Linked DNA regions of Homo sapiens. The protein of the gene in region 3 purifies or fractionates together with the protein of the main gene of each other region. This does not show direct contact. Each region holds a gene or a part of one and is shown on either strand. Other genes may lie near its edges.

The links.
Region 1: the proteins of ZSCAN31 (region 3) and YTHDC2 purify together in Homo sapiens (affinity purification with mass spectrometry; 2 studies listed by BioGRID and IntAct, with this or other methods). This does not show direct contact.
Region 2: the proteins of ZSCAN31 (region 3) and MTMR4 purify together in Homo sapiens (affinity purification with mass spectrometry; 2 studies listed by BioGRID and IntAct, with this or other methods). This does not show direct contact.

The regions. Positions count from the first base shown.
Region 1 is NC_000005.10:113,565,681-113,572,705, forward strand, and holds part of YTHDC2 (3'-5' RNA helicase YTHDC2), read left to right. Parts: intron 1-212; coding exon 213-339; intron 340-1,411; coding exon 1,412-1,617; intron 1,618-1,973; coding exon 1,974-2,169; intron 2,170-7,025. UniProt on the Homo sapiens protein: 3'-5' RNA helicase that plays a key role in the male and female germline by promoting transition from mitotic to meiotic divisions in stem cells.
Region 2 is NC_000017.11:58,490,627-58,497,651, forward strand, and holds part of MTMR4 (phosphatidylinositol-3,5-bisphosphate 3-phosphatase MTMR4), read right to left. Parts: intron 5,705-7,025; coding exon 4,306-5,704; intron 2,327-4,305; coding exon 2,216-2,326; intron 1,974-2,215; coding exon 1,885-1,973; intron 1,215-1,884; coding exon 1,037-1,214; 3' UTR 1-1,036. UniProt on the Homo sapiens protein: Lipid phosphatase that specifically dephosphorylates the D-3 position of phosphatidylinositol 3-phosphate and phosphatidylinositol 3,5-bisphosphate, generating phosphatidylinositol and phosphatidylinositol 5-phosphate.
Region 3 is NC_000006.12:28,333,130-28,341,030, forward strand, and holds the start of ZSCAN31 (zinc finger and SCAN domain-containing protein 31), read right to left. Parts: upstream 3,020-7,901; 5' UTR 2,953-3,019; exon of another isoform or gene 2,227-2,952; intron 1-2,226.

The DNA.
Region 1 (7,025 bases), on a different chromosome or scaffold from region 3:
CTTTGCGATTTTATAAACTCAATGGCTTTTTTAGCATTTGAGTATAAATTAATGATAAATATTATTTGATCATAAAGTCTTAGATTTTATAGAAAATTAGAATAAGGCAAATTCACGTCGAGGAATTCGTGTAGTGATTTGTAGTTACTTGTTGCCTCACTAAGAAGCGATTAGTAAATGTGTCTTGTTATGCAATTATTCTCTTTTTATAGGCCTGGCAAAAAGCACGAAGTGATGGGTGGGAGCGAGCCTTTTGTGAAAAGAATTTTCTTTCACAGGCTACTATGGAAATAATCATAGGCATGAGAACACAGTTGCTTGGTCAACTTAGAGCATCAGGTAAAGTTTTTCCCTCAAAGAGCCTATTTAAGTTACTGAGAGTACCCTGCCCATATTTCATAGTATTTCTTATGTTAACTGATGCCATCTATTATTTTTATGACATTATCATGTTGTGTATCTTATATTCATGCATGATTTGTAGACTTCGATATGTCTTCAACTTTTGCTTGTTGATGAAAAAATGCTATTGCAGGAGGTGTATTTGAGAAATCTAGGGACAGAATCTATATGCTTGTGATACTGTTGGCAATGAACAATTTGTATTGGTTGGCAGAGATCAATTTAGATCTTATAGTTATTTTCTTTTATCACCATTAATGAATACTTATTTAGTTCTGTGAAATAGAAATTTTAAAAAATTGATATGAATGCTGCTCTTCATATTTTTGGAACACAAAAACAGCTAGTAATACTTGAAGTCACCTTTTTTTTTTTTTTTTTTTGAAGAGGATGCTAGTATTGCTATTACCTTTTAGAATTGCCTTTTTGAGTAGCAAAAAAAAATTGATGTGGTAGTCAGAAGAATAGTACCAGAGCCTGGATTCATGGGTTAGCTGAAGTGCCAGAGTAATATAAGGAATGAACCAGAGGACTTAAGAGTTGACTTGAACATAAGGAAATATGAAGGACTTTTGAAACTCAAGCAAAAATTACCATATATTTACTTGACTTCATCTACAGAATTAGTATCTATCATAACCAAAATGTTGTTAATAACAGTCAGAAGAATGGTTTGGGTTTCCAGCTATGAATTTAGTTTGTTTCTGGCAGCAGATTATGAAGAACTTTATTGCAAGAATGTGGATCTAAAAAAATTTAAGCCCCAAGTGATTCTTATACTTAATCTAACCTGAGCAGATCTACACTTCCCTAGAATGTTGGTTCTGTATCTGTTTTAGGGTGGGGAGGGGTGGTTCATATTTTAAACAACTTTCCAGAGGAGATTCTATTAATTATCGTGAAATTTGAATATCACAAAATTTACATGAGTTGTACAAGTTTTTGGAAAAAATACACAAAAGTATCTTTTGCACAATAGAAAAATTGGTGTGGTTTTTTTCCCCTCTAGGTTTTGTTAGAGCACGAGGTGGTGGTGACATTCGGGACGTTAACACAAACTCTGAGAATTGGGCTGTCGTTAAAGCTGCATTGGTGGCAGGCATGTATCCTAATTTAGTCCACGTGGACAGAGAGAATCTAGTGTTGACAGGGCCAAAGGAGAAAAAAGTACGATTTCATCCTGCTTCAGTTCTCAGTCAGCCTCAATATAAAAAGGTAAAAGATTTTGAATGCTGTTGGGTTTTGAGGTGAAACTAATTTAGGTAGTTCACTATCAATGAAAAATGCTCCAAATACCTGCCTGCTTTAAGAAATTAATTAGTTATATATATATATATATATATATCATTAAATATTGGAACAAAACTTATAAATTTTAGAGTTGGAAAAGGTAACATGTTAAGTAATGAGTACTTTTGTACGAACTACATGAGCGATGACTTGTTTTAATTTTTGCTTACGTACTAATATACATCATCTATTTCATTGAGAGACTTTACATTTTAAAAGTATTTCCAATAAACTAGGTGATAAACACAATTAACAATTTTTAAAATTTATTTTCTTAATAGATTCCTCCAGCCAATGGTCAAGCTGCAGCAATTAAGGCACTGCCCACAGATTGGCTTATTTATGATGAAATGACCAGAGCCCATAGAATAGCTAATATTAGATGTTGTTCAGCAGTGACGCCTGTCACTATATTGGTATTCTGTGGACCAGCTAGATTGGCAAGTAATGCTCTTCAGGAACCTTCATCCTTTAGAGGTAAATGTATTAAGGAAATAAAAATCTATTTGAAATGAATTTTTTTTTTTTACCAAATAATGAAATTATTTTACTAAACCAAATAATGAAATTATAAAGATTTATATAGTAGCAGCTCTATTTTGATGTACTAAGACTAATTAGGAAATACTAAGGTATACTACTGTTTTTGAAATTTATTTATAAGGTAACTTGATGTTTATTTGTGCATTTTTTATTAATCTTGCTGTTGGGAAGAAATTTTTCTTTTCCACTTGAATTTAAATGATAGTTTAACGTAAATAAAGTTAATTGTAAAAGAAATAATAGCCACCCATAATCTCATTTTTCTCATGCTAACACTTTTTAATGTTATATTTTTTCTACATGTTTACATATTTTAAATTATTTCACCCAAACTGTTATTTTATATTTTGTTATTTTCATTACAGAGATATCAAAAATATTTTTAGTATTTTATATTAATGACTGCAAAATAGTATATCACATTGAAGTGGCATAATGCATTTTTTTCCTTCAACTTTTATTTTAAGTTCAGGGGTACATGTGCAAGATGTGCAGTTTTGTTGCATAGGTAAAGGTGTGCCATGGTGGTTTGCTGCACAGATCATGACATCATGTATCTATCAAGCCCAGTGTCCATTAGCTATTCTTCCTGATGTTCTCCCTACCCTCTACCACACACCCCCAGTAGGCCCCAGTGTGTGTTGTTCCCCTGTCTGTGTCCATGTGTTCTCATCATTCAGCTCCCACTTATAAGTGAGAACATGCGGTGTTTGGTTTTCCATTCCTGCATTAGTTTGCTGAGGATAATGGCTTCCAACTTCAGCCATGTCCCTGCAAAGGACATGATCTAATTCCTTTTTATGGCTGCATAGTATCCCATGGTGTATATGTACCATATTTTCTTTATCTAGCCTACCATTGATGGGCATTTGGGTTGATTCCATGTCTTTACTATTGTGAATAATGCTGCACTGAACATACAAATGTACTTATCTTTATAATAGAATGATTTATATTCCTTTGGGTATTTACCCAGAAATGGTATTTCTGCCTCCAGGTCTTTGAAGAATCACCATGCTGTCTCCCATGGTGGTTGAATTAATTTACACTAGTGTAATTTAATTACACAGTAGTGTAAAAGTGTTCCTTTTTCTCTACAACCTCACCAGCATGTTGTTTTTTGACTTTTTAATAATAGCAATTCTGATCTCATTGTGGTTTTGAATTGCATTCCAGTAATGATCAGTGACGTTGAGCTTTTTTTCATATGTTTGTTGGCCACATGTACATCTTTTGAAAAGTGTCTGTTCGTGTCCTTTGCCCACTTTTTAATGGGTTGTTTTTTCTTGTAAATTTGCTTAAGTTCCTTGTATACTCTGGATATTAGACCTTTGTCAGATGGATAGATTGCAAAAATTTTCTCCCATTCTGTAGGTTGTCTGTTTCCTCTGATGATAGTTGTTTCTTTTGCTGTGCAGAAACTTTAGTTTAATTAGATCCCATTTGTCAATTTTTGCTTTTGCTGCAATTGCTTTTGGCGTTTTTATCATGAAATCTTTGCCTGTGCCTATGTCCTGAATGGTATTGCCTAGATTTTCTTCGAGGGTTTTTATGGTTTAGAGTTTTACATTTAAGTCTTTAATCCATCTTGAGTTAATTTTTGTCGAAGGTGTTAGGAAGGGGCCCAGTTTCAGTTTTCTGCATATAGCTAACCAGTTCTTTCAGCACCATTTGTTAAATAAGGAGTCCTTTCCTCATTGCTTGTTTTTGTCAGGTTTGTTAAAAATCAGACGGTTGTAAGTGTGTGGTCTTATTTCTGAGTTCTCTATTCTGTTCCATCATTCTATGTGTTTGTTCTTATACCAGTACCATGCTGTCTTGGCTACTGTAGCCCTGTAGTATAGCTTGAAGTCGGGTAGCGTGATGCCTCAGCTTTGTTCTTTTTGCTTAGGATTGTCTTGGCTATATGGTCTCTTTTGGTTCCATAAGAATTTTGAAATCGTTTCTTCTAAGTCTGTGAAGACTGTCAGTATAATGGGAATAGCATTGAATCTGTAAATTTCTCTGGGCAGTATGGCCATTTTCATGATATTGATTGTTCCTATCCATGAGCATGGAACGTTTTTCCATTTGTTTATGTCCTCTCTGATTTCTTTGAGCAGTGATACGTAGTTCTCCTTGAAGAGGTCCTTCACTTCCCTTATTAGCTGTATTCCTAGGTATTTTATTTTACTTTATTTTATTTTATTTCATTTTTTTGAGATGGAGTCTTGCTCTGTCACCCAGGCTGGAGTGCAGTGGCACAATCTCAGCTCACTGTAACCTCCGCCTCCTGGGTTCAAGCAATTCTCCTGCCTGAGACTCCTGAGTAGCTGGGATTACAGGCACGCACCACAATTCCTGGCTAATTTTTGTATTTTTACTAGAGACAGGGTCTCACCATGTTGGGCAGGGTGATCTTGAACTCCAGACCTCAAGGTGATCCATCTGCCTGCCTTGGCCTCCCAAAGTGCTGCAATTACAGGCGTGAGCTATCATGCTTGGCCTTTTCCTATGTATTTTATTTTTGTTGCAATTGTGAATGTGAATTCATTCATGATTTGGCTCTCTGCTTGCCTGTTGTTGGTATATAGGAATGCTAGCAATTTTTGCACATTGATTTTATATCCTGAGACTTTGCTGAAGTTGCTTATCAGCTTAAGAAGCTTTTGGACTGAGATAATGGGTTTTCTAGATGTAGATCATATCAACTACAAACAAAGATAATTTGACTTCCTCTTTTCCTATTTGAATACTCTTTATTTCTTTATTTTGAGATGGAGTCTCACTTTGCCGCCCAGGTTGGAGTGCAGCGGTGTGATCTCAGCTCACTGCAACCTCCGCCTTCTGGGTTCAAGCAATTCTGCTGCCTCAGCCTCCGGAGTAGCTGGGATTACAGACGTCTGCCACCATACTCCACTAATTTTTTTTGTATTTTTAGTAGATTTGGCATTTCACCATGTTGGCCAGGCAGGTCTCAAACTCCTGACTTCAAGTGATCTACCACCTCGGCCTCCCAATGTGCTGGGATTATAGGCATGAGCCACTGCACCCACCCGACGTGAATACTCTTCATTTTTTTCTCTGGCCTGATTTCCTTGGCCTGAACTTCCAATCCTATGTTGAATAAGAGTGATGAGAGAGGACATCCTTGTACTGTGACAGTTTTCAAGGAGAATGCTTCCTGCTTTTGCCCATTCAGTATGATACTGGCTGTGGGTTTGTCATAAATAGCTCTTATTATTTTGAGATATGTTCCTTTACTACCTAGTTTATTGAGTTTTTAACACGAAGACATGTTGAATTTTATTGAAGGCCTTTTCTGCATCTATTGAGATAATCATTTGGTTTTTGTCTTTAGATCTGTTTATGTGATGAATTATGTTTATTGATTTGCATATGTTGAACCAGCCTTGCATCCCAGGGATGAAGCCAACTTGATTGTGGTGGACAAGCATTTAGATGTGCTGCTGTATTTGGTTTGCCCATATTTTATTGAGAATTTTTGCACTGATATTCATCAGGGATATTGGCCTGAAGTTTTCTTTTTTGTTGTATCTCTGTCAGGCTTTGGTATCAGTATGATGCTGGTCTTACAGTATGAGTTATGGAGGAGTCCCTCCTTTTCAGTTGTTTGGAATAGTTTCAAAAGAAAGGGTATCAGCTCTTCTATGTACTTCTGGTAGAATTCAGCTGTAAATCCATCTGGTTGGGCTTTTTTGGTTGGTAGGCTCTTTATTACTGCCTCAATTTCCAAACTTGTTATTGGTCTATTCAGGGATTCAGCTTCTTTCTGGTTCAGTCTCAGGAGTATGTATGTGTCCAGGAATCTACCTCTTTCTTCTAGATTTTCTAGTTTATTTGCATAGAGGTGTTTATAGTATCCTTTGATGGTAGTTTGTATTCCCATGGGGTCAGTGGTGAGATCCCTTGTATCATTTTTATTGTGTCTATTTGATTCTTCTCTCTTTTCTTCTTTATTAATCTAGCTAGCAGTCTGTTTTATTGATTTTTAAAAAGAACCAGCTTTTTGATTTGCTGATTTTTTTGGAGGGTTTTTCCTGTCTCTATCGCCTTCACTTCTGCTCTGATATTAGTTATTTCATGTCTTCTGCTAGCTTGGGTTTGTTTTCTCTTTGTTCTCTAATTTTTTAAATTGAGATGTTAGGTGGTTAACTTGAAATCTTTCTAGCTTTCTGATGTGTTCATTTAGTGCTATGAATTTCCGTCTTAACACTACTTTAGCTGTGTCCCAGAGATTGTGGTACATTGTCTCTTTGTTCTCATTACTTTCAAATAACTTCTTGATTTCTGCCTTAATTTTGTTATTTACCCAAGAGTCATTCAGGAGCAGGTTGTTCAGTTTCCATGTAGTTGTGTGGTATTGAGTGAATGTCTTAGTCTTGAGTTCTAATTTGATTGTGCTGTGGTCTGATAGACTGTTATGATTTTACTTCTTTTACATTTACTGAGGAGTGTTTTACTTCCAGTTATGTGATCAATTTTAGAATAAATGCCATGTGGCGATGAGAAGAATGTATATTCTCTTGTTTTTGGGTAGAGAGTTCTGTAGATATCTATCAGGTCCACTTGATCCAGAGCTGAGTTCAGGTCCTGAATATCTTTGTTAATTTTCTGTCTTGATGATCTGTCTAATGTTGTCTGTGGGGTGTTAAAGTCTCCCACTATTATTGTATGGGAGTCTAAATCTCTTTGTAGGTCTCTAAGAACTTGTTTAATGAATCTGGGTGCTCCTGTATTAGCTTGCATATATATTTAGGATCATGAGTTCTTTTTGTTGAATTGAGCCC
Region 2 (7,025 bases), on a different chromosome or scaffold from region 3:
CTACCCTCAAGGTGTCAAGTGTTCAGGATAAGAAGCAATGTGACCCAGAGGAGGCATCAGCCAAGGGAAAGACAACATGGGGGAAATGGGCAATGGAACAACAACAACGAAAACCTTTGTTTTATTTTCATGCCAGGAGAGGATCAAGGTGTAGCTCCTGTGTTAGCACCAGGACAACTAGGAAAAGTCAGGTGCAAAGAGTAGGGCACAATCAGCAGATATTTCACAAGGATAATTTTTGCTTTTCCCTTCTCATTCTTCACAGTGCATAACTCAAGAGCTGCCACTGTGTAACAGAGACGACTGCCTTCACAGCTCAAAATAACTCAATGTTTGCCAGGACCGAACATCAGCAGAGTTTTCCTCTGCTCCCAAAAATGTCTCACTCCCTAGAACTGTTCCCCTAAACTGAATATTCACCAATGCTGGCTGATGAGCCAACTGAAAAATACATTGAAACCTCCACTTGCTGAGCCAGTCTTCAAACCAAACTCCACAGAAAGACAGTACTAATGCAACTAGAAGGAGTGCCTCTAAAGGCTGAGCCTTCATGCAGACACAGAGCACAGAGGTACAGGATATAGTTCATCTCAAATAGGACAGGAATTCCTACCTTGTATACTATAATCTGCTTTTGTCAAGGTGGAGGAGAGATGGGTCTGGTTATCACTTGGAGTTTGGTTATACATATGCCTTTCTATTGCTGTTTGGGGCACTTTGCACCAGGCAACATCTACGCAATCATCATCTTGTGACCTCCAGGAGAAAGAGGCTGGAGTCACCAACTCAACATTAAGCTTCCAGACCCTGGGTCTGGGTTAGGACCATTACCCCAAGGTGAGGGTATCACCAGTAGAGGACCTCCTGCTAAATTGCAATTCCTCTGCTCCAGTTTCATGATACCAAGGAGGATTTCTCAAGATGGTATCTCTGAGCTCTGTGATTTCATGAGCCACACCAAGGAACCTTCCAAACTACAACTGAAGAAGATCCTCCCTTCAAACCTGCTAAAATTGGACAGGTTTCTCCCCGGCATTCAACTGGAAGCTGTAGCAATGGGTTTCTTCAGCTGTTGGCTCATGAGTTCCCTGGCACGAGAGACTTGAATGTGTTCGTAACATGAGTTACAGACGAGAACTGGGTCATAGAGTTGCTGATCAGGAATGGGCAGCTTCAGGTGGCAGCATCCAGCACAAAATACATTCCCACAATTTCTGTCAAAGCAGAAAGAGGGAAGAGTTCATCAGAAATGCCAATATACTGGCCAGGCAGGGTGACTCACACCAGTAATCCCTGCACTTTGGTAGGCTGAGGCAGTAGAATCGCTTGAGGCCAGGAGTTTGAGACTTGCCTGAGCAACATAGCAAGAGCCCATCGCTAATAAAAAAATAATTAATTAATTAATATTAAGAAATGCCAATATACTGAGAATGAGTGATACTAAATGAAAAGTTGGGGACAAACAAAAATAGTTTCTATAAAGAGGTGTCCACTTCCAAACTAATTCCACTTAGTTCTATACATATGTATTACACTATTTTTGTTTTTGTTTTTTGTCCTTTTTGAGACAGAGTCTTGCTCTGTTGCCAGGATGGAGTGCAGTGGCGTAATCTCGGCTCACTGCAACCTCCAGCTCCCTGGTTCGAGCTATTCTCCTGCCTCAGCCTCCAGAGTAGCTGGGATTACAGGCATGCGCCACCACGCCCAGCTAATTTTTGTATTTTTAGTGGAGACAGGTTTTACCATGTTGGCCAGGATGGTCTCAATCTCCTCACCTCATGATCCGCCTGCCTCGGCCTCCCAAGGTGTTGGCATTACAGGTGTGAGCCACTGCGCCTGGCCTGCCCTGTTTTTTGTCATACTAAATCATACAAAACATCTTACCTGCAATGGTGTCTTCGTTTGGCCAACCAGAATTCACAGTCACAGTTATAGCAGTGTGATGCCATATGGTCTGGAACCCAGCGAGTCACCTAATAGAAGGCACAAAGAAAAATTCCTGGTCCTTGTTGACAGACTGGAAGAGCAACATTGCAATGAGGAAAGCACCCCAGCAGAAAGAGACAAGGCTTATCTTCATAACTGGCTACCATTTGCCTACCAGGCTGACACTCCTCTGGGGGACAGCTCAGTCTACAGCATGTCATTCATCTCTGGAAAATATGATGACTCACTGGCTCACGTAAGTACCCACCACATATGTGCCTAAACATACCTCAGTCTCTTTCTTATCAACAGGTTCCCAGCTTGCTTCTGAAAGGCAGTCTTCACTGTGATCAGAGCCAAAATCCTCAGTATCACTGCCATCTGACTCCTTCAAACATGTCTGATGAAAAGGCAAAGACAACAAATTATCTTCATCATCATTAACGCTTACTGTTTACCATGTGTCAGGCACTGTGCTAAGTGCATTACACACATGAACTTATTTCTTATGACAGTCTTACAATGTATACTACTAATATCCCCATTTTACAAATAAGAAAATGAAGCCACAGAGAAAGAGCTGATACGTAGTAAAGCTGGGATTTGAACCTAGTATTGTAGCTTCAGATTTACACTCTTACCGATATGCTACACCACAGCATAGAAAGACTCTTGTTATGTTCTAAACCAGGGGTTGGCAAGCTATGGCCCACAGGCCAAACTAGCCCACTGCCTGTTTTTGTAAATCAGGTTTTGCTGGAACACAGCTGCATTCATTCATTTACTTACTGTCTATGGCTGCTTTTTGTTTTGTTTTTGAGACAAGGTCTCGCTCTTTTGCCCAGGCTGGAATGCAGCAGCATGATCACGGCTCGCTGTAGCCTCAACATCCTGGACTCAAGAGATCCTCCCACCTCAGCCTCCTGAGTAGTTGGGACCACAGGCGTCCACCACCATGTCCAGCTAATTTTTTGTAATTTTTGTAGAGATGGGGTTTCACCATGTTGCCTAGGCTGGTCTCAAACTTCTTGGCTAAAGCAATCCACCTACCTCGGCCTCACAAAGTCCTAAGACTACAGGCGTGAGCCACAGTGCCTGGCTACGGCTGCTTTTGCACAATAGCAGAGCTGAGTAGTTGCAACATAGACGGTATGGCCCACAAAACCTAAAATAGTTATTATTTGGCCTTTTACAAAAAAAAAAAAAGTTTGCTGACTCCTGTTTAAAGCACCAGAGAAGTGAGAAGCAGGCAAGTGGGGAGCACCTTAACAGAAGGAAGGAAAGTGTCTGTGTAAATGGCAAGATACCATGGAGAGGAAGCTGGCTCCTAGAAGCTCCCCAAGGACTATGGTGCCAGAACCTGAGGCTGCCCAACACTGCACAGCCTATAGTCTTCATCTCTCACCTGGATTATTCCAAAATGACCTTACCAGCCTCCCAATCTGGGTCTCAACTGCCTCATTAAAATTGTACACTGTTGGGCCGGGCGCAGTGGCTCACGCCTGTAATCCCAGCACTTTGGGAGGCCGAGGTGGGCGGATCATGAGGTCAGGGGATCGAGACCATCCTGGCTAACACAGTGAGACCCCATCTCTACTAAAAATACAAAAAAAAAAAATTAGCTGGGCATGGTGGCGGGCGCCTGTAGTCCCAGCTACTCAGGAGGCTGAGGCAGGAGAATGGCGTGAACCCGGGAGGGCGGAGGTTGCAGTGAGCTGAGATTGCACGACTGCACTCCAGCCTGGGTGACAGAGCGAGACTCCGTCTCAAAAAAAAAAAAAAAAAAAAATTGTACATTGTTGCAAGAGTCATTTTCTTAAACTACAACTCTGATCATATTGTGCACTGGCCTAAAATTTTATTGCCTTAAGGGTAAAATCCAAACAAGAAGGGCACTCAACCTGACCCTTGTAATCTCCACCTAATTCTCCAATGTCACCTCCCACCACCCTATTTGACTGTCTCTCATAGCCCCAGTGTAAGCGTGTATGCATGCATGTACACATATATACTCGCATGTCCCATCTTTTTAAGCCATATCATTGGAGTATCTATTGCCACTACGCTTCTGCAAATGGTGTTTTGTTTTCACTGTCTACCTGGCTAAGTATCACACATTCTTCAGCACTCAGCTCAAGCATTACCTTCTCAAGAAAGTCTTCCTTGACGTTTCACTCCACTCCAGCCCTCTAACACCTGATGCCTCCTCAATCATAGCACTTAAAAACATCATTCTAATTGCTTACTTGTTTTTCATCCTATAGCCCAGGCACCTAACTCAGTGGCACACAGCAAGTACCCAACGAATAAATGCTGAATGGAGGGAAGGCTGGATGAACAGAGTAAATAATGGGTGTATGGCAGTTGGTGACTACTTACAAAATCATCCTCATAGTCCATGGGGGGCTCTGCTGGAGGGGCACAGCAGTGACGGATGTCCAGCCTCATCTGAAGCTCACGCACCTGTCGACGTAGCTGCTCCACCTCTTGTTTGTACCCTGCTTCGATTTGCCGTAACCTATGCTGGATCACATCCGTGGGAAAGGGGAGTCCATCATCATCCAAATACAGAGGAGGCACTGGAGAAGGGCAGTTCAGTGGAACGGGCTTTGTGCTAGAGACTTGCTTTGGATGACTGGACAACCACATCTGGTTCTTTCCTCCTGGGCCAGTACAATGTCCATTGGAATGACTAGAACAGACAGGTGACTTCACACCTTCTCTCTGAGCCCACTGGCCCCCAAAGCAGGGCCCTGTGGCCCGCATCTGCTTACTGTTTGGCCTCTTGCTACAACAGCCATAGGAAAGCAGCCGCCGAGGGGTGGCCTCCCCACTTGGGAATGAAGTCACCATCCCTTGGAAGCTGTCCCAGTTGGACCCTAGAAAAGAGAACTCACTGATCTGGCTCTGAGAAATTGGCTTCCGGACCAATTCCAATGGCATTTTCCCAAAGCGAGGATTTTCCAATAACTGCCCATTCCTATTATTTCCTCTTTTACCAATGTCTTCCTCCCCATGGGTCAGATCCGGCACAGAACTCAGTTGTTCCTGGTGGGAGATACTTGCCACAGACCCTGAGGGATCTTGGTTGAGGAAGTCAGTGCTTGGGTCTAGAGGAGTTTGGCAGGCAGCACTCGGTGGGTTGCAAACGGTGCTGAGGCTGTGATCAAGAACACACTTGGAGGGCACACCTAGCATGGAGTCTGGCTGGGCCTGTTGGGGCGTACCTGTAGGAGAGTTCTGGGAAGACTCAGGAAAATTACAAACTCCATCACACTTGTTAGAAATGACCTTGGAGAGTGCACTGACAGCTTCTGTTTCAGGACAATGTTCAGGTGGCTCCCCTATGCCATCTAAAGTCCTACCCAGCTCATCCTGGGCAGAAGGGTCTGGAGCTGGTCCCTTAGTCTCTTCTAGGACTTTGATCTCAGGATCAGAGGTGTTGCTCTTCATTTCCCGAGGCACTGCGGTATTAAGCAGTTTGTAACTTGGAGAACAGCTTTTGTGACTCTTGAAAGGTTTATTGCTCAAGTAGTCTTTCTGGCTGCTGGGCAGAGGAGGAGGAAGACCCACTTCTCCTACAGTTTGCTGAGGCCCTCCTACCCCAGAGTCCACAAAGCTTGTCTCTGATCCCTCAGGATTGCTGTGCCAGGGCTCCAGGCCTACCCTGACCTCCTGACAGTGGTTATTCAGGTTAGGGTCACTGGATGTACGAGTCAGGGGGCTGCTTGTGTCACAGGCAGAAAGAAGATCATCCATGGATCTGGTTTTAGGTAATCTGGAAAGACAAATATAACACCTCCAGGTCAGGAGATGGGCACTTGCAATACAATATATGGAACTGAATCAATGGAGCAATATCAAAGCCAGAGTTTAGAAATAATGACACTTAAGAACACTTAAGTTTAGAAATAAGGACCCTTAAGATCACAAATAACCAATGTTCACTGAAAGTTTACTCTGTAAAAAAAGCATGAGACATGGACCGTGTCCTCCGGAACCCAAAAATCTATCCTCAGCTTTTGTCAGCACTCAACCTACCAGTCTCCCTGGGCAATCTCAACCACTACAGTGGTTTCAGCTGCCTTCTATGCCAATGCCTTCTGAATCTACTGTTCCAGCTAGGACTATACCTGAGACTCAAACCCAATATCCCACTGCCTCCATCACAGTAAAACAGAAAGAAGATGGGTTTTGGAGCTAGACAATATTGGCTCTGACGCTAATTAGCTACATGACTACAAATAAGTAAATTAACCTCTCAGATACTTGGTTTCTCCCTTTATACAATGATGATAATAAATCATACCTTGTAGAGATGCTATGAGAATTCAAAATACAGGCAACCAACCACAAACATAATAACCACAAACTTTATTAAGACAACACAACTCCCTCAACACTGCTCTTGATAACCACTTAGCAGCAGTGTGCTCCTCTGCTTCCCAAGGCCCCATGAAACTTCCCCTAGTATATAGCACTCAGAGTTCTAGAGGCATTCATATATACCAGATAGGTTAAGGGACATTTTCAAGAGTGACCATCCTGATTATTAATGCAGTTCAAAGTCCTTAGAGCAATGAAAACTTGAGTGAAATTCACCAGGGAAACAGTAGAGGCTTCACTGGCCTCCTATTTTTAGATGGCTCAGTCAGTTCAGCCTATGCGGAAAAATTCCCCAAAGGCAGTTACAACGCAGCTTATTTTAAGTAATCGGTTTTTGAAACTTAAAACAAATGTTTTATACATACTTGATATACCTTTTGTGACGAATTTTGATTTTTTTAATGGTACGAAATTCCAGGAAGGCAATAACAGTGGTTATCATTATAGTTCCTGGAGTCCCATAGGCAGGGTTCAAATCCCAATTTAACAACATCTTTGCTGTGTGACTTTAACTTCTCTACGCCTCAGATCCCTCATCTATGGAATAAAGGTAAAGTACCTAGCTCTTAAAGCTATTATGAAGATTAAACAAAAGAATCCACATCAAAGCACATTGCTCAGTGCTTCCTATAACACATTATTGCACTTTATTGTTTACTTGTTTAACTCCCTCTACTGAAGTGTCCTGAAGGCAGGACTCTGTCTTATTTGAA
Region 3 (7,901 bases):
AACCAGGCTCACTGTTTCATTCCAGGACCTGCAGTGGACTTCCACACTCATGAAAGGGAGACAGAAAAATAAAAGGTAGTTGACTGCTGACTCAGCTTATGACTTTATCAGCAACTAAGGCCCAGGAGGCAAGGGACAAGGAGAGACTCATTACTAGTAACTAACCTATTTATTTGCTCATTTAGTCAATAAATGTTCATTGAGCACTCATAACATACCAGGTACTTGGCTGGGCATTAGGGCTACAATGGTGAAAAAGACGGGACCAGGCCCTGTTTTGCTGGAGCAAACATTTTAACGGGGAAGACAAACCAAAAATAAAAGCAACAACAAAAATAAGTAAGGAGGCAAATAAAATAATTATGAGTTGTGATGATTACTGAGGATAATAAACTAGGCACTGAGTTACCAAATAAATGGACAGCCTATTTAGATGGGGTAGTGGGAAGTGAGGTAACATTTAAGCCAAGCCCTTAAGTGCAAAAGAAGTGAGCCATACAGAATAGGGATGAGGGAGGGGAAGAGCACTCTGGACTATCCAAAGGCCCTGAGGAAGTGCATGCTGCCATCAAAGACAGGAAAGGAGGCTGGAGTGTCTACAGTCATGTGGGAGAAGAGTGGCAAAATATTAGGCTGGCAAGCCAAGCAGGAGTCAGATCATGTAGGGCATAGGAGTTAGGATTTTATAAATGCAATGAGAAACCACTGAAGGCTTTAAGAAAGGGAGTGACAAGGCTGAATTCTGTACCGAGAAGCTCTGCTACTGGATGGAGAATGAGCTGAGGGAATGAGGGTAGAGGCAAAAGTGGAAGCAGAAAGCAAGAGTAGAAGCAGAAGAGGCAAGAGTTAAAAAAAAGGGTAAAGTGGAGGGGGTGAAGACTATTGCACTGAATCTAGAAAGACTTCCACTTAGTTTAGATGTTACTGTACAAGTGAAAGGAGAAAGAGCTTAACCTTTGTAAAAGCAGTTCAGTCACTGGACAATCAATTTATGGAGCTGAGCTAAGAGCTTGGAATATAGAGGTGTTTATAGCTCATGAGGATATAGTTACAATACAATAAAATAAAAGCCATAATTTAAAAAATGTATACAAGGTATACCCCTGGAGGAAGTGGAAGAGCTCATCCTAAATACAAGATTAAGTTTTTATGCATTGCCTGTAATCCACAAAGGAATTCATTTCACATATATTTACTAAGTGTTTACGAGGTGTCAGACAGCAAAGAGTGAAACAATGCAGAATTTGATGTGTCCCCACTGTCCTTCACCGAAATAAAAACATGGCAGAAAGAGCATAAAAGAGAATGTTTTCATTCATGAGAATGTTTTCATTCACGTCAGCATAATTAACAACAGCAACAAAGAGATCATGTAAATCACAAATCATGTGTGTTGTAAAATAAATCCCAAAGGATACCAATTACGATGACAAGAAAACAGAAGAAGACCTTAAATACCATGAGGAAACAGTCAAATCCAGAAATGGGGATGCACTACAGGAAGACTGGAAGAGCCTCCTTTTAAACAAGGCAATGGGATGGGAGGAAGGGAGGCAAAGAGTAAAATTGCCCTAGGTTAAGACTCAACTACATGCAGTGAGTGGTCTATGATTGGATCCTAGTTGGTACAAACAGGTATAAAAGACATCTGTGGGACAACAGGGGGTGGAAGGATTTAAACATGAACTAGGTGTTAGGTGAAGCGCCTACACTTAGTTGGGTGTGCTAATAATCTTGTGGTTATGTAGGGAAATGTCCCCAATTTTTAGAGATGCATTAGAAACTAGAGGTGACAAGTTATGAGGTTGGTGGTTTTTACAATATTTAAAGAAAACATATGCGACAAACATTGCATAATGTTGACTTATTAAATAAAAATTACGTGTATATAGGAAATAAGGCTTTTGACAGGGAGAGACCCTTCTCTACCTCTGGACCTCGGTTTCGCCGCAAAGCTCCGACCTCTCTAGGGGTCTCTCCCACCACCCTGTGAAAGGGCTACCTAGCTTGCCTTAGGTGGATAGCAAGGGAAGGGTCCCTGGAGAGCCTGCCCCCGCCCATGATTTAGTGTCTTATCCCCACATAACATAAAACTAAGCCTGGGGAAAAAATCAGGTTGCAGGCACCGATAAGGGAACTAGCACAGGGTGTTGTGCCTAGAGATATGCCCACGGCTGCATAGATAGAAAAACCTCGGGCCCATTTGGATAAAAACTTGCACAGAACCTCCAGCTCACTCAGATAAGGGAACAAGGCCTGACACATAATGCCTTTGTCCTTTGTATAGTCAGCAGGTTCCCAGGAAAAGTTTCTTCTCCTTTTGTGGGTATGGACACGGTGGGTTCTGGTAGGTTCCGGCAGGCGCTCTACTTTCCTTTATTAGGACTATAAGCCCAGCTTCTGTGAATCATCACCTCAGCCCCTGATTGGTCCGGGGCCAAACTTTCACTTCGGCTTCTGATAGGTCCTGGGCCAAGCTAAGCAGCAGCTATGAATCATCATTTCAGCTCCTGATTGGTCCCGGACCAAGCTGAGTCAAGCGTTCGCCAGGACAGCCCGCAGACTAAGCGCATTCCCTCTCCTTTCCAGTCCATAAAAACCCCAGAACGGGCCCCATAATGGGTACTCCCGGTCGGGACCCCTTCTCTGCTGGCAGAGAGCTTTTTCCTTTCGCTTATTAAACTTTCGCTCTAACCTCACCTTTGTGTCTGCGCTCCTTTATCGTCTTGGAGGCAGGACAAAGAACTCCGGGCGTTATCTCAGACAAAGAAAGGCTGTTTAATCTTCAGGATAAGGGGCGGGACCTCCACCTACTCCACGGGGGCTTCAGGCCAGTGAATGTGTAGGGGCGGGGGTCACGCCTGCGCAGACGTTCCCTCCCCGCCTACTCCAAGGCACAGACCTGAAATCTTCTGGGAACCTGGCGGGTCGCGACAAGGGGCCAAGACTCACCTTCGGGGCACCGGCAAGCTACGGAACAGGTGGCGGGGCTGCAGCACCCCAATGACCGATCAACCGCAAAGGCCGGAAATGCGTCAGCCGTTCTGAGCCCACTGGCTGAAGCCAGGCAACTCTTTCCTTTCTAGGAATTCCAGAGGTGGCTGCTGCTTGGTGACTCCCTTATTGCAAACCCCGGGGCCAAAAATCCCAGTCCCACTGGGTGCGAGGCGGAGAAATCCGGCGAGGCATTTCTATGGGGAGCGGCCCCCAGCATTTAGGAGTTAGATGGTCATCGAGACCCAAAACATTAGAGCCGGAAGGTGTTAGGAAGATATAAACGTAGAGAGCGAGTAACAGGAGGCAATTCCACGGCCAAACAGGTTTATTTACAGGAAAAGCCTGCGAAGAGTTCCAGTTAGGAATCTGGCTGAGATCCTGATCGCTTACAAGCTGAGGCTTTTATAATAAAGTTTCTGTTGGGGAGGGGTTGGGGAAGTGCTGGCTAGTTGGAACTGTTTGGACACTTTCCAACTGGGGACAGATGTGGTTAGGGCCGTTAGGCTCTGTTGCGGTTAGAGCTGTTATGCTCTGTTGAAGCTATGGACGGGGTTGACATTTGCTTTGTTTCTTGAGAACACAGTCATCAAGGTTGTAAAATGGCATCACTATTGTTAGTCCTCACAGAAGGGACTTCATACTTTTTCTGTCTCTAATACTTACCTATTCTTCCCCGAGTCTGTCCACTTCCTCTGGTCTCTTTGACATCACAAAGGAGAGATGGTAATGGTGGGGACGAGAATACAGAGTTGTTTTTGTTGTGGTTTTGTTATTTTGTGTTTTACACTCAAACCTCTGTCTTCTGGAATCCCAAAGTCTAGAAGAAGAGCGTGTAAACAAGTAACTGCGTAAAACAGACGTGCATGTGAAATGAAGTAAAATAAAATAAGTGCTTGTAAATCGATGAGAATAGCCTCTGGAACATGCTAAGTACGTATGTAGGAAATAAATGTATGTATTAGTTTGAATTCGTGGCGTGGAAGAGAGAGGAAAACTAATGGGGCAAAACAAGACTCAGCAGGAATCTGCCAGTGTACACTGGAAAAGGAGCAAAGGAAATAAATTTCTGGGAGAGGGAATCAAATGTACAAAAGCAGAACTGGGGTGAAATCCTTTGGTACATCCAAAGAACTGGGCTGATCAGCATGACTGGAGAGTGGTATATGTGGCAGGGGCACCAGCTCTTACTTTTTTTGGATCCCTAACCAAGGAATTTGAGCAGTCTGATCAAATTTACATCTAGAAATGTTATCTTGGCAGCCATGTGGGGATGGACTGTAAGGAAATGAGACTACAGGCAGGGAGACCAGCTAGGAGACTACTACAAGAATCCAGGGTAGAGAGAGTGAGGGCCTGAATCAAGGCAGTAGCAATAGAAATAGAGAAGACAGATAATACATGTTAAGAGGTTGAATTGATTTTTTACAACTCATTCATTAATTATATAGATTCCCATTGAATGCGATCTTTGTGCCAAGGGCTTGCTGGATATAATAATAATGAAGGACACAAGGTCCTCATCCTCATGGGGTTTATAATGTAACAAGGAATACAGACAGAAAGAGACCCAGCTTATACAATTCAAGAGACCTTATTTGAGAAAAGGAATACAAAATTACAAGTACAAACATAGATATGAAAATGGAGACTTAAGTCAGGTGTAATAGCTCACGCCTGTAATCCCAACACTTTGAGAGGCCGAGATGGGAGGATCTCTTGAGTCCAGGAGTTCAAGACAAGCCTGGGCGACATAGTGAGACTCTGTCTCTGCAAAAAATAAAAAATATTATCCAGGCACAGTTACTCATGCTATTAGTCTCAGCTACTGGGGAGGCTGAGCAGGGATAATCACCAGCTGCAGTAGCCATGATCGTGCCACTGCACTCTAGCTTGAGTGACAGACTGAGACCCTGTCTCCAAAATTAAATAAATAAATAAATAAAGAAGGAAAAAGAAAAAAAACAAAAATGGAGATTTAGAATGGAAAATAGGCCAGGCGTGGTGGTTCACGCCTATAATCCTAGCACATTGGGAGGCTGAGGCAGGCAGATTGCATGAGCTCAGGAGTTCAAGACCAGCCTGGGCAACGTGGTGAAACCCCATCTCTACCCAAAATACAAAAATTAGCCAGGCATTGTGGCACATGCCTGTGGGTCTGAGGTGGGAGGATTGCTTGAGCCTGGAAGGTGGGGTTTTCAGTGAGCTGAGATTGTGCCACTGCACTCCAGCGTGGCTGACAGAGTGAGATCCCATCTCGAAAAATAAATAAATAAATATAGAATGGAAAATACATTCTTTACATCACATTACAATTTTTTTTGTAATTGTAATGATAATTACAATTACAAAACGAGACAGAACAGGGTCTCGTTCTGTCAACTAAGCTGGGGTGGAGTGGTGTGATCACTGCAACCTTAAACTCCTGTGCTCAAGCAATCCTCTTGCTTCTGCCTCCCAAAATGCTGGGATTAAAGGTGTGAGCTGCTGCCACCACATCCAGCTATACTACAAATTTTAAAGTCTTCCAAATATCACAAACAAAAATCAGAAAAATAACAAAATATTTTTATTATTTAACTGCCTGACTCCTCTATAGTAACTCTCCCCTAATTTGTTGGCTTTATGTTCTTGGACTGCTTCTTTGTATGTTAATTTCATAATTTAAATTTTTCTAGAAAGAATAAAAAGTTAATGTAGCCATTCCTCTAGCATGGTTGATCAAAAGCTTTTTAAAATTGTTGACATTTGAGTAAACTTCTATCAAGTTTCTTTCAATTATGAGCTACAAGATTTCAGGACATTCAAATTTTTTTATGTGGGGACTAATCTGAGAATCTCTGTGTTGATGACACATTAACTAGTTGGTCTTAGATGTCCTCATTGTCAATGGCATATTATGATGTCTTTGTCAATATCAGTATTTTATGTAAAATGTGCAAGAAATTTAAATCTCTTTTCAATGTGTTCAGTGATTCACTTTTCTTCACTAGAGAATTAATCCAAGAGCATATTTTTTTACTGTATTCAAAGTTTAGCTTTTTTTCTTAATGAGTTGCTGATTTTATATAATTTGACATTGTTTCTTTTGTTATAATTTGCTTCCTGATGTCAGAATAATTTCCATTGATTTTATTATCTTTATTTCTTTTGTTTCTCACATTCCATTAATTTTTTTTGGCAGGGGAGTGGGGAAGGAGTCATGCTCTATTTCCCAGGATGGAGTGCAGTGGCTCGATCTCAGCTCACTGCAACTTCTGCCTCCCAGGTTCAAGCGATTCTCATACCTCGAGTATCTGGGATTACAGGCATGTGCCACCACGCCTGGCAAATTTTGTATTTTTAGTAGAGACGGGGTTTCGCCGTGTTGGCCAGGCTGGTCTCAAACTCCTGACCTCAGGTGATCTGCCCACCTTGGCCTTCCAATGTGCTGGGATTACAGGCATGAGCCACCACGCCTAGCCTCCATTAATTTTTAAATTTAAATTTGCTCTCAGTTCTTTAATAAATTATTTAATTTTGTAATTTAGCATTTATTGCTTAAATCATGCCAAAATATCTTTTCAAATTGTAGTTAAAATGACTTATTTCTAAGATAGTGTCCCCTTACCAGATGCTAAAATTCTCTATTGTTATTTCAGTGCCACTCAACAAGAGAAAAATAAGAGATGGGGAGTCAGAAATGGAAACAAACAGTGGTTTAAACACCTGTTGCTAAAATATCCATTTTTTCCCCTCAAATTTTGCAGGCATATGAACCATGTAAACACATTGCTAGGTATCATTCCAGGCCAGGGCATTTGAAGAAACTGCAAGTGTAGAATCCATTTTTTCCCCTCAAATTTTACAAGCATATGAACCATGTAAACACATTGCTAGGTATCATTCCAGGCCAGGGCATTTGAAGAAACATGCAAATGTAGAATCACTTACACTTTATAGACTTAATCATAAACCCACTTCTGAATAAGTTAAGTGCTGCAGTGGAAATAGATAGGAATCTGATGACTGTTACAGTAATTACAATACCCATCTTTAATTTATCACAGCCTAATTGGAAATAATATTGTATCACTTCACATTTTAGTCTTAGTTGCATATTTAACAATTTACATTTCACATATAGACAGAAACTTATGACACTATTATTCCTTTGCTCTTGCCCATTGATATGGTTTTGCTGTGTCCCCACCCAAATGTCATCTTGAATTGTTCCCATAATCCCCACATGTGGTGGGAAGGGCCCAGTGGGAAATAATTGAATCATGGGGGCGGTTTTCTCCTTGCTATTCTCATGATACTAAGGTCTTATGAGATCTGAGGTTTTATAAGGGGTTTCCCCCTTCACTCTGTTCTCTTCTTCTCTCTCCTGCTGCCATGTGAAGAAGAACATGTTGCTTCTCCTTCTGCCATGATTGTAAGTTTCCTGAGGTCTCCCCAGCCATGCTGAACTGTGAGTCAATTAAACCTCCTCTCTTTATAAATTACCCAGTCTTGGGTATTTCTTTATAGCAGCATGACAACAGACTAAAACACCCATCTTTTGTAGTATTCTTATATATTTTACTTCTCTGTACATTATAACTGCCAGCTTAAAATGATATTATTTTTGCTTTAAATGATCACTTGTTTTTTAAGGAAATTAACTAAAAAGCAAGGCTTTTATATTCACATACATATTCACCATTCTGATGCTCTTAATTCCTTCTTGTAGATCTGAGTTTCCAGCTGTCACTTCCCTTCAGACTGAAGTTTTTTGTTTTTCTTTAGGGTTTGGTTTTGGTTTTGGTTTGGTTGGTTGGCTTGCAGTGCAGGTGCAAGTCTGCTGGAGAAGTATTTTTCAGCTATCATTTAATAGAAAATGTCTTTATTTCACTCTTATTTTTGAAGGACATTTCCACTGGATT